Regions from separate parts of the Homo sapiens genome. Here regions 1 and 3 are each linked to region 2. Evidence: fine-mapped expression QTL. A gene starts in region 2. Each other region holds a variant in brackets. All regions are shown on one strand. Distances are from middle to middle.

Region 1 (2,761 bases), 140 kb after region 2:
GCAGTGGTTTGTAGTTCTTGAAGAGATCCTAAACATCCCTTGTAAGTTGGATTCCTAGGTATTTTATTCTCTTTGAAGCAATTGTGAATGGGAGTTCACTCATGATTTGGCTCTCTGTTTGTCTGTTATTGGTGTATAAGAATGCTTGTGATTTTTGCACATTGATTTTGTATCCTGAGACTTTGCTGAAGTTGCTTATCAGCTTAAGGAGGTTTTGGGCTGAGACAATGGGGTTTTCTAGATATACAATCATGTCGTCTGCAAACAGGGACAATTTGACTTCCTCTTTTCCTAATTGAATACCCCTTCTTTCTCCTGCCTGATTACCGTGGCCAGAACTTCCAACACTATGTTGAATAGGAGTGGTGAGAGAGGGCATCCCTATCTTGTCCCAGTTTTCAAAGGGAATGCTTCCAGTTTTTGCCCATTCAGTATATGATATTGGCTGTGGGTTTGTCATAAATAGCTCTTATTATTTTGAGATACATCTCATCAATACCTAATTTATTGAGAGTTTTTAGCATGAAGGGCTGTTGAATTTTGTCAAAGGCCTTTTCTGCATCTATTGAGATAATCATGTGGTTTTTGTCGTTGGTTCTGTTTATATGCTGGATTATGTTTATTGATTTGTGTATATTGAACCAGCCTTGCATCCCAGGGATGAAGCCCACTTGATCATGGTGGATAAGCTTTTTGATGTGCTGCTGGATTTGGTTTGCCAGTCTTTTATTGAGGATTTTTACATCAATGTTCATCAGGGATATTGGTCTAAAGTTCTCTTTTTTTGTTGTGTCTCTGCCAGGCTTTGGTATTAGGATGACCAGCATCACTTTTCATAAAGCCTTTGGTGGTTCCCATTGGAGAAAGCTCCAAATGCTTCAACTTGGCATTGAAAAGCTTCCACCACTGATTATGACCTGTATGTCCTGCCATATTCCCTGCGGCTCATAAACCCGGCATCTGCACCCTCCCTTTGGCCTTCGCCTGTGCCACTCCTCCTGCCTGAGATGCTGCCCAGCATATCTCATGCTGGGGGCCTTCCCTGGCACACAGTGGCCCCCTCTGGCTCTGAGATCCTGGAGCACTTGTTGTCAAGACAGCTCAGCTGGCTCTAGGATCTACCGCCCGGTCCTGTTGGGGACATGCCATTTCATAGATGTCCTTGTTGCCTAGACTGGATCAGGAGTCTTTTGAGGATAACCTGTCTGCCTGCCTCATCGCCTCCCCACCCCCACTCCCAGCCCTCAGCAGGGTCTCCACCAGTGCCTGTGGGTGGTGAGGATTCATTGGTGGCCAGTCCTGCTGAAGGACCGGGGGACATGGGAATCATGTGTGCCAGATTTAGCTGTTGCTGAGCATAGGAAGGCAATTTCTGTGTTTATGTGAAAAATATTAACAAATGATGAATCACAGGTTAGCCCAGTGGTTAGGTCTAGCAGAGGGAAGACAGAA[C/T]GTGTTCCATTAAGTGTTTAGATGGGTGGGAGCCACTGGTACCAATGGGAGGGGACGGGAAATGTGGGATGGAGACAGCTGGGGACTGGGCCATGGAGGGAGTCAGTGTTCACCTGAGGGCTCTGGATAGAAGCCAAGGAGCACTGAGTACATGAGCCGATACGTGGCCACCCATGCACCAGCCCTCACCTTTGCCCCATAGGAGGGAAGCCCTGAACCCTCTAGAAGGAAAGTGTGGTCTCAGGTGATACCCCACACAGAGAGGAGATGCAGGGGTGTCGGCAAAGAGGAACAGCCCAGGCAGCAGGAGTCAAAAAGGAAAGGGGAGGGGACACAATGCCAGGCTGCAGGCCCAAGCTGGCCACCGCTGAGCTAAGTGGAGTCTGTCCTACTGGGATCTAATTCTCATATCTCTCCCACCCAGAGACCCAAGAGGGGAATGCATTTTTCCATCTGTTTCTGTCCTCCATTGGTCAAGGATTGTCCCCACAGAGCAGTAACCCCCCTGCTCTTGCTCTTCCAGGCTATGCATGTGAGAGTGCCAAGTGGGTGCCCACGGGCATCCCACATCATGCCAACCCCAGAGCAGGAAGGCAGAGACATGGGGCCTGGGCCACAGATTCTCCCCGTGCACAGCTGTGCAATTACTGTGTGCAGTGAACTAATACATGCACAAGTGGTCGGGCATGTTTGAGTGAATTTGAAAACTGGAACATTCACTAATCACAGATTAAATCTGACTCCATTTGCTGTTGGACAGCAATTTTTGTGTTTCTACCTGAACTACAGACATTCTAGCACAATTCTGTTTAGCAAGCATTCACGTGGCACCTATAGAATACACCAGGCTAGGTGCTACAGGGTTGGAAAGATGAAGAGAGGAATAGCTCCCAATCTAGCCAAGGAAACCAGCATGGACACATATTCTCTTCAGTGTCACCCCTTACAGAGCCAGAGTTAGCAAGATTTGGTGGTATTAGAGAAAGCTTATCAGTTCCCCCTGAGAGGTAGGGAAGACTTCACTGAGGCAGTATCACTTCACTGAACACTTAACTTCACGGAGGGAAGACTTCACTGAGGCAGGCATGGAGGGCACCCTGGCAGGTGGAGTGTGGAGTGTGGTTGGTGTTCATTTGGATGCAAGACCCATTCTTAGCTCAGCAGTTTTATTAAACTCTAAGGGCCAGATTTGGCCAACTCCCAAAGGAGGAAATTTTTTAAGAGACTAGATGGGAGTCCCTGCAGGGAACTCAGGAGCCTGCCACAGGCTCCAGCCTGGGCGGGGTGCCAGTGGGTCTCCATCTCGCCG
Region 2 (2,761 bases):
AGAAATCAAAAACCGAGGCCGGTCATTTGATACAGAATCTAGAATAGGAATGTCTATTTCAGAAACAGTTCTACTTGTAATTGCCTGACTTGGTACAAATTTTCTGGGTCAATTTTCCTCATCGACAAAAATGGGTTTTGTTACCTTCAGTATGGATGGGTGGAACTGTGGTTTCTGAGACCCTTTGAAGCTTGCTTGGTTTATGAAGATTATTAAAATTTCTGATAAAAGGCAATGTATAAATGATATACATTCACTATGCAAACTATCATGAAGACCTATTATTCGAGCTTTAGGAAAAGCTGATCACGGTGCTGTCACTTTCCCTTAAAGTCCACTGTCTGAAACCAGAGAACACGCCAGAAAGAAATTTGGCCCGCTAACCTCTCCCCTCACCAAACACTAAACAGACACCAGCTCAGAATCCGAAAACTTGACAGTCTGGCTCCAGTCTGCCCAAGGCCAGTAGTGTGGATTTGGACGACTCACTTTACTTTCAATGGGCTCGGTTTGCTAAGATTTTCAGTTCCATCTTTTACTCATCTAACTGCTCCATTCCTCTTTGCTTCTTCCTTTCCCGCACCTGCCACCATCCTTTCTACCTCCCTAACGACTTTGTCTTTGCGTTCCTACCGCTTCCCGCATTACCCGTTTCGCACTTTCTCATCTCAGATTTCGGTCACCCGCACCCTGCCATCCCCTTGGCTTCTCCTCTTTGGGCATCTCCGGTATTCCTCCCGCAATGTCCTGGCTCCTCTCCAAGATCCAAAAAGGAAGGCTACCATCCCCAGCCCCGCTGTGCACTCGCGCAACTCAGGCGCTGGCCCACACCGTGCGCCCCGGATCCCACACCTCCTTGAGTCCCGATGGCTCGCCCTCACCTACCCGCCCCTCTCTTAGCATCTCGTCCCCCACCGCCATCTCCGCTATCAGCTCGGAGACTCGGGAGCCGCCAGTCACTGTGCCCTGTCCCTCTCCGGAGGCCGCCAGTCACTGTGCCCTGTCCCTCTCCGGAGGCTCTTCTTCCTCTTTAGCCTGGGATCCCCACCTCGGGCAGGGTCCGTCGCCACCAAGTCCAGGGCCGCGCGCCACCCACGTGTCCAAGAGCGCAGTGCCCGCCCACCGCAAACCCCCCAAGGCCGGCAGCTCCTAGCCGCGGAAGCTCTCCCCTTGCACACGAAACCTGCACTGGCTGGGGAACTGCAGACTGATCGCCAGCGGCACGTGCGGGGCGCCGACGCCTCGCCGCAGGGTGCGGGTGCCCGCGGAGCCAGCCAGCCAGAGAACCAGCAGGAGAGGAAAAAGGGTGGGCGCGCGGGTGGGCCCGGGAGGCGGAGACCTTCGGGAAGCTGGGGCCACGCGGCGGTGCAGGCGACGGGACTGCAGTGCCACCTCTCCCGAGAAACCCACACGCTCGCACGCCCGCGCGCGCACGCACGTGCACACGGTGGGCAGGGAGAAAACGAGAGAGTCTGAGTGCTGGGCGCGTTTTAGCGATGGCTTCTGCTCTCAACAGCAAAATTAACCCGCCCGGCACTTGCCAGGGCTCCAAAGCCGACGGTGGCGCCGGCTGGAGAATGGACTGTGATCCCCAGATGCACGTGAAAATGTGCAAGAAGATCGCCCAGCTCACCAAGGTAAGGTGGGGCGCAGCGGGCCAGCGAGCTGCACGCCCGGGGCGCCCGAGCCGGGAGTCAGTGCGGATGCGCCTCCCGGGAGGCCCGGGCCAAATCCAGACAGAAACTTTGTCTCGGAGGCCAACCGGGAAGGGAAGCGGTCCTAAATCTGGGTGACTTGACCTTCTAGAGGCACCATCCTAAAGCAGCAGAGAAAGAGGATCCTTGCCAAGGAAACTCCCACAGCCTGCTGGCTGGGCAGGTGGTCTGTGCTTTTCCAAGGTGGGAATGTGAATCGTGTGTGTGTGTGTGTCCCCGCCAGCTTTGCTCAAGTGCCTAGAATGTTGTGATTTCATTCAACTGCCATACTTTACAGCTGGGGAGGTCATGTGGGCTCTATTTAAACACTTGATCCATTTATTCCTTCATTCAACAAATATTTGCGTCATTTGTTGAGTGCCAGCAGCTTGCGTGGCACCGTACTAAACCTGGAATGCAGCCTAGGGGACTTACTATCAAACTGGGTGCAGACGTGTGTAGGAGCATAAATGGGGAAGAGCACGATTCACCAAATAACTATGGGATTAGGAAGGACCTAGGGAAGTCAGCCAGCCCACCTCCTTACCTCGTGCAGGGGGCTCTGATTGAACCTTCCCAGACTATGTCTTTTTCAAGAAGACCAGCAAAAAGATGCCACCAGTGCTCTTTGTTAACCCTCTGCAGCTCCCCAATTAGAAGCTCCTTGTCACAGACTCCCCTCTGTGCCTTGTCTAGATGGAAAACAACATCCCTCACTGTCTCCTATACAAGGTTTCAAGTGGATGAATTTAGCTGTTTGCCTTGGGGTTTCCTTTCGGTCTCATAATAAACTCCTGGTGCCATGCCCGCCAGGGAGAGGTCAGGTCCAGGTCTGTCCTGTAGCGTCTGGAACATGCTCTCTTTCCTCACCATCTCCCTCTCACTTCCCACACATTTTTTTGTGGGATCACAGACATTCCCCTCCCCCTGTCCCGCCAACCTCACTATTTTGCCAGGAGGAATAGAGCACAGGGGCTTGGAATTGAACACTAGCCGCCTTCTCCCACCTGTCTCATTAACTTCACATTCTTTGCACGTGAGCCTGTCTCCAAACAGGGCTCTCTTTG
Region 3 (2,761 bases), 150 kb after region 2:
AGAACCTACGGGACATTTTCCTGCCCTGGTCTGTTCTCCCAGCAGCATCCCTGGCTCTTGAAGCCCCGCTGAGTGCAGCATCTATGTGCACACAGGGGCCTTTGCTTCCTGGCCCTGCAGCCTCAGGGGACCTGACAGAGCTGGAATCCTGGGTTCGGCAAGCCATCTCCCCAGGGGGCCCTGGGCAAGCCGCTGCTGCTATCTGGGCCTCCCTGGCCGGGCTGAACACAGGATGGCATTCCCATCGTGTGCACTTGTTCTCCCTCTTTGTTGAGTAATTGCTGTAAGGGGGACTTGACTGCATGCCTGCTTGGAACAGACTGAAAGATTCCGGAGAGAAGCCAGGGAAGGGAGCGTCCAGGCCCGAGGACCTTCAGCTCATTGGCCGCCTGCAGACCCGCCTGAAGGAGAGAGAGGACATCATCAAGCAGCTCACGGTGAGGCTGTCAGGGGGCGCCTCACCCACGCACCTGGCCGGGCACTGCGGGCTCCCCCGGGAGGGGCGTTCACTTGCACCCAGCATTTCTCTAGGTGCCCTAATATCTTACAAAGAATCCTTTCTTGCCGTGCGCGGTGGCTCAAGCCTGTAATCCCAGCACTTTGGGAGGCGGAGGCGGGTGGATCACTTGAGGTCAGGAGTTCGGGACCAGCCTAGCCATGTTGAAACCCTGTCTCTACTAAAAATACAAAAATTAGCTGGGTGTGGTTGTGGGCATCTGTAATTCCAGCTTCTAGGAAGGCTGAGGCAGGAGAATCACTTGAACCCGAGAGACAGAGGTTGCAGTGAGCCAGCATAGCGCCACTGCACTCCAGTCTGGGCGACAGAGCAAGACTGTCTCAAAGAAAAACTCCTTTCTTTTCTATTATTAAAGAAGACATACTCACTAAAAAATTAATACAGGAAAATAGGAGGCAAAAAAAAATCACTTTACTCCCAAGTCCAACAGCATTTGCCCCATGTTAATATTGGTTTTTTAACTTACAGAATTTGAGAAAATCTATAATGGCTTAGGTTTGAATTGTAGTAGAATTAGTGTTTTTATTGTTGATCTTCTTTTTGTAAAAATGACCACCTGTTTTCTACTTAGCAAAGCCACTCCCTAAGCCCCTTGGAAAGAACCCAGCTCCCTCTGATTCAGTATCCAACCAAGGCCTGCTGGTCATTTCTGCTCCTGCTCACCTGCCTCACTTCTGTATCTCTCTGTGCTTTGAAAATTAGGTGACATTGATATGGAATTATTGCTCATTTGCTACGTGTGAACAAAGGTATCATGGGTTTTTTTTTTTTTAAAGTAATCCTTATTTCTAAGAAATACATACTGATGTTTTTACAGAGAAAAATTATGTAATAACTGGAATTTAGTAATAATACAGCAG[G/C]AGAGAAAAAAGTGGAAAATGATACACACAAACAAGATCGGCCATATAGTTATTATAGGTAAAGTGGGGATGGATTTCATTACTCTCCCTATGTTTGTATATGTTAGGCAACACAAATGTCAAACAAGACAGAGGAAGAAAGGCGGCAAAATCCTTTGCATACCTGGGGGTTTTCTTTCTTTGCCTTAATTACTAACTTTCTGCATTAGGTTACCTTCACATGCTAAGAACAGTTGAATTTTCAATTTCCTAAGGCATCAGCTTGCCCTTTTCTTTACAAGAGGGGCTGGGGACATAAAAAAAGCAAAGGTGCTTCCTCAAAAGCTTCAGTGCCTGGCAGCTTTATTCCCACTGACTTCCCCTTCCTCCCCTGGACTTTCCTTCTCTATTCTGCCCTCACAGCCATCTTCCTTCAAGTCAAACCCAGTGCTGTGTGGTTAGGCTCATTTAGACTCAGTTGTATTGGTTTTCTAGGAAGAGAGAAGATTTCACTACGCAGCATTCCCCAGTGCCATGTCCCACCGGAATCGGTCTTTCTCTTTCAATCCTCACCCGGGATATTTGACCCCTTCCATGAAGGTAAATTGGTTCTAATGGTTTTAATGCATTATACAATTCCATTGGTTTCGTTTTTCTTAAAGGTAACCACAGGTTATTTAAGGGCTGGTGTACGCTCAGAAAAATATTCATTGGAAAAAAAAAACCCACTTGTTTATATCTATGGCTGGGCGGATTATGTGTGATTTTTATTTTTTATGGGATTTTGTATTTTCCAAATTTTCTAGAATAAATGTGTGTCAGTATTAAGAATAGCTCTATCTAGGTGATGGGAGGGAGAAGAGTAAGAATCTTCCACTTCTTAACTATTTCTGTACATATTTTTGGAATTTTTCACAATGAGCATATTCACATTCAATTATCTACTATCACAAAATCCTAAAGGCTCTTAAAAAATAGTATTTTTGGCTGGGTGCAATGGCTCACACCTGTAATCCCAGCACTTTGGGAGGCCGAGGTGGGTGGATCACTTGAGGTCAGGATTTCAAGACCAGCCTGGCCAACGTGGTGAAACTCCAACTCTATTAAAAATACAAAAATTAGCTGGGCTTGGTGGCAGATGCCTGTAATCCCAGCTACTCAGGAGGCCGAGGTAGGAGAATCACTTGAACCCAGGAGGCGGAGGTTGCAGTGAGCTGAGATCGCACCACCGTACTCCAGCTTGGGTGACAGAGCAAGGCTACATCTTAAAAACAAAAATAGTATTTTTAAAAATAGTTCACAGGACAATACACTTGTGACTTAACTAATGTCATCTCGTGTAGTTTTTATGTATCCCTCATTGTGACAAAATACAAGTTTCACTCCAGAAATTTAAATAAATGCA

Alleles and levels. Alleles are on the strand shown, and positions count from the first base shown. SD is a standard deviation of normalised expression in the study named.
In carriers of allele C in region 1, the expression in ovary of the gene that starts at base 1,175 in region 2 tends to be lower than with T alone (moderate effect, 0.53 SD a copy in GTEx).
With allele C in place of G in region 3, the expression in putamen of the gene that starts at base 1,175 in region 2 is higher (moderate effect, 0.53 SD a copy in GTEx).

What was found.
Region 1: its variant is fine-mapped to the expression of FAM184B in ovary (GTEx, PIP 0.92).
Region 3: its variant is fine-mapped to the expression of FAM184B in putamen (GTEx, PIP 0.98).

Annotation. Positions count from the first base shown.
Region 1 is chr4:17,642,305-17,645,065 of GRCh38, reverse strand. The region is part of intron 12 of FAM184B (family with sequence similarity 184 member B); the gene reads left to right. Among named protein-coding and RNA genes, the nearest start is that of MED28, 29 kb to the right of the region's middle. The variant C/T (reference allele first, on the strand shown) is at 1,453.
Region 2 is chr4:17,780,035-17,782,795 of GRCh38, reverse strand. It overlaps FAM184B (family with sequence similarity 184 member B), which reads left to right and starts at 1,175. Exons shown (of 18, transcript NM_015688.2): 1 at 1,175-1,637. The coding sequence starts at 1,497.
Region 3 is chr4:17,634,204-17,636,964 of GRCh38, reverse strand. It overlaps FAM184B (family with sequence similarity 184 member B), which reads left to right. Exons shown (of 18, transcript NM_015688.2): 15 at 320-437; 16 at 1,852-1,956. Among named protein-coding and RNA genes, the nearest start is that of MED28, 21 kb to the right of the region's middle. RefSeq lists a silencer at 88-177. The variant G/C (reference allele first, on the strand shown) is at 1,378.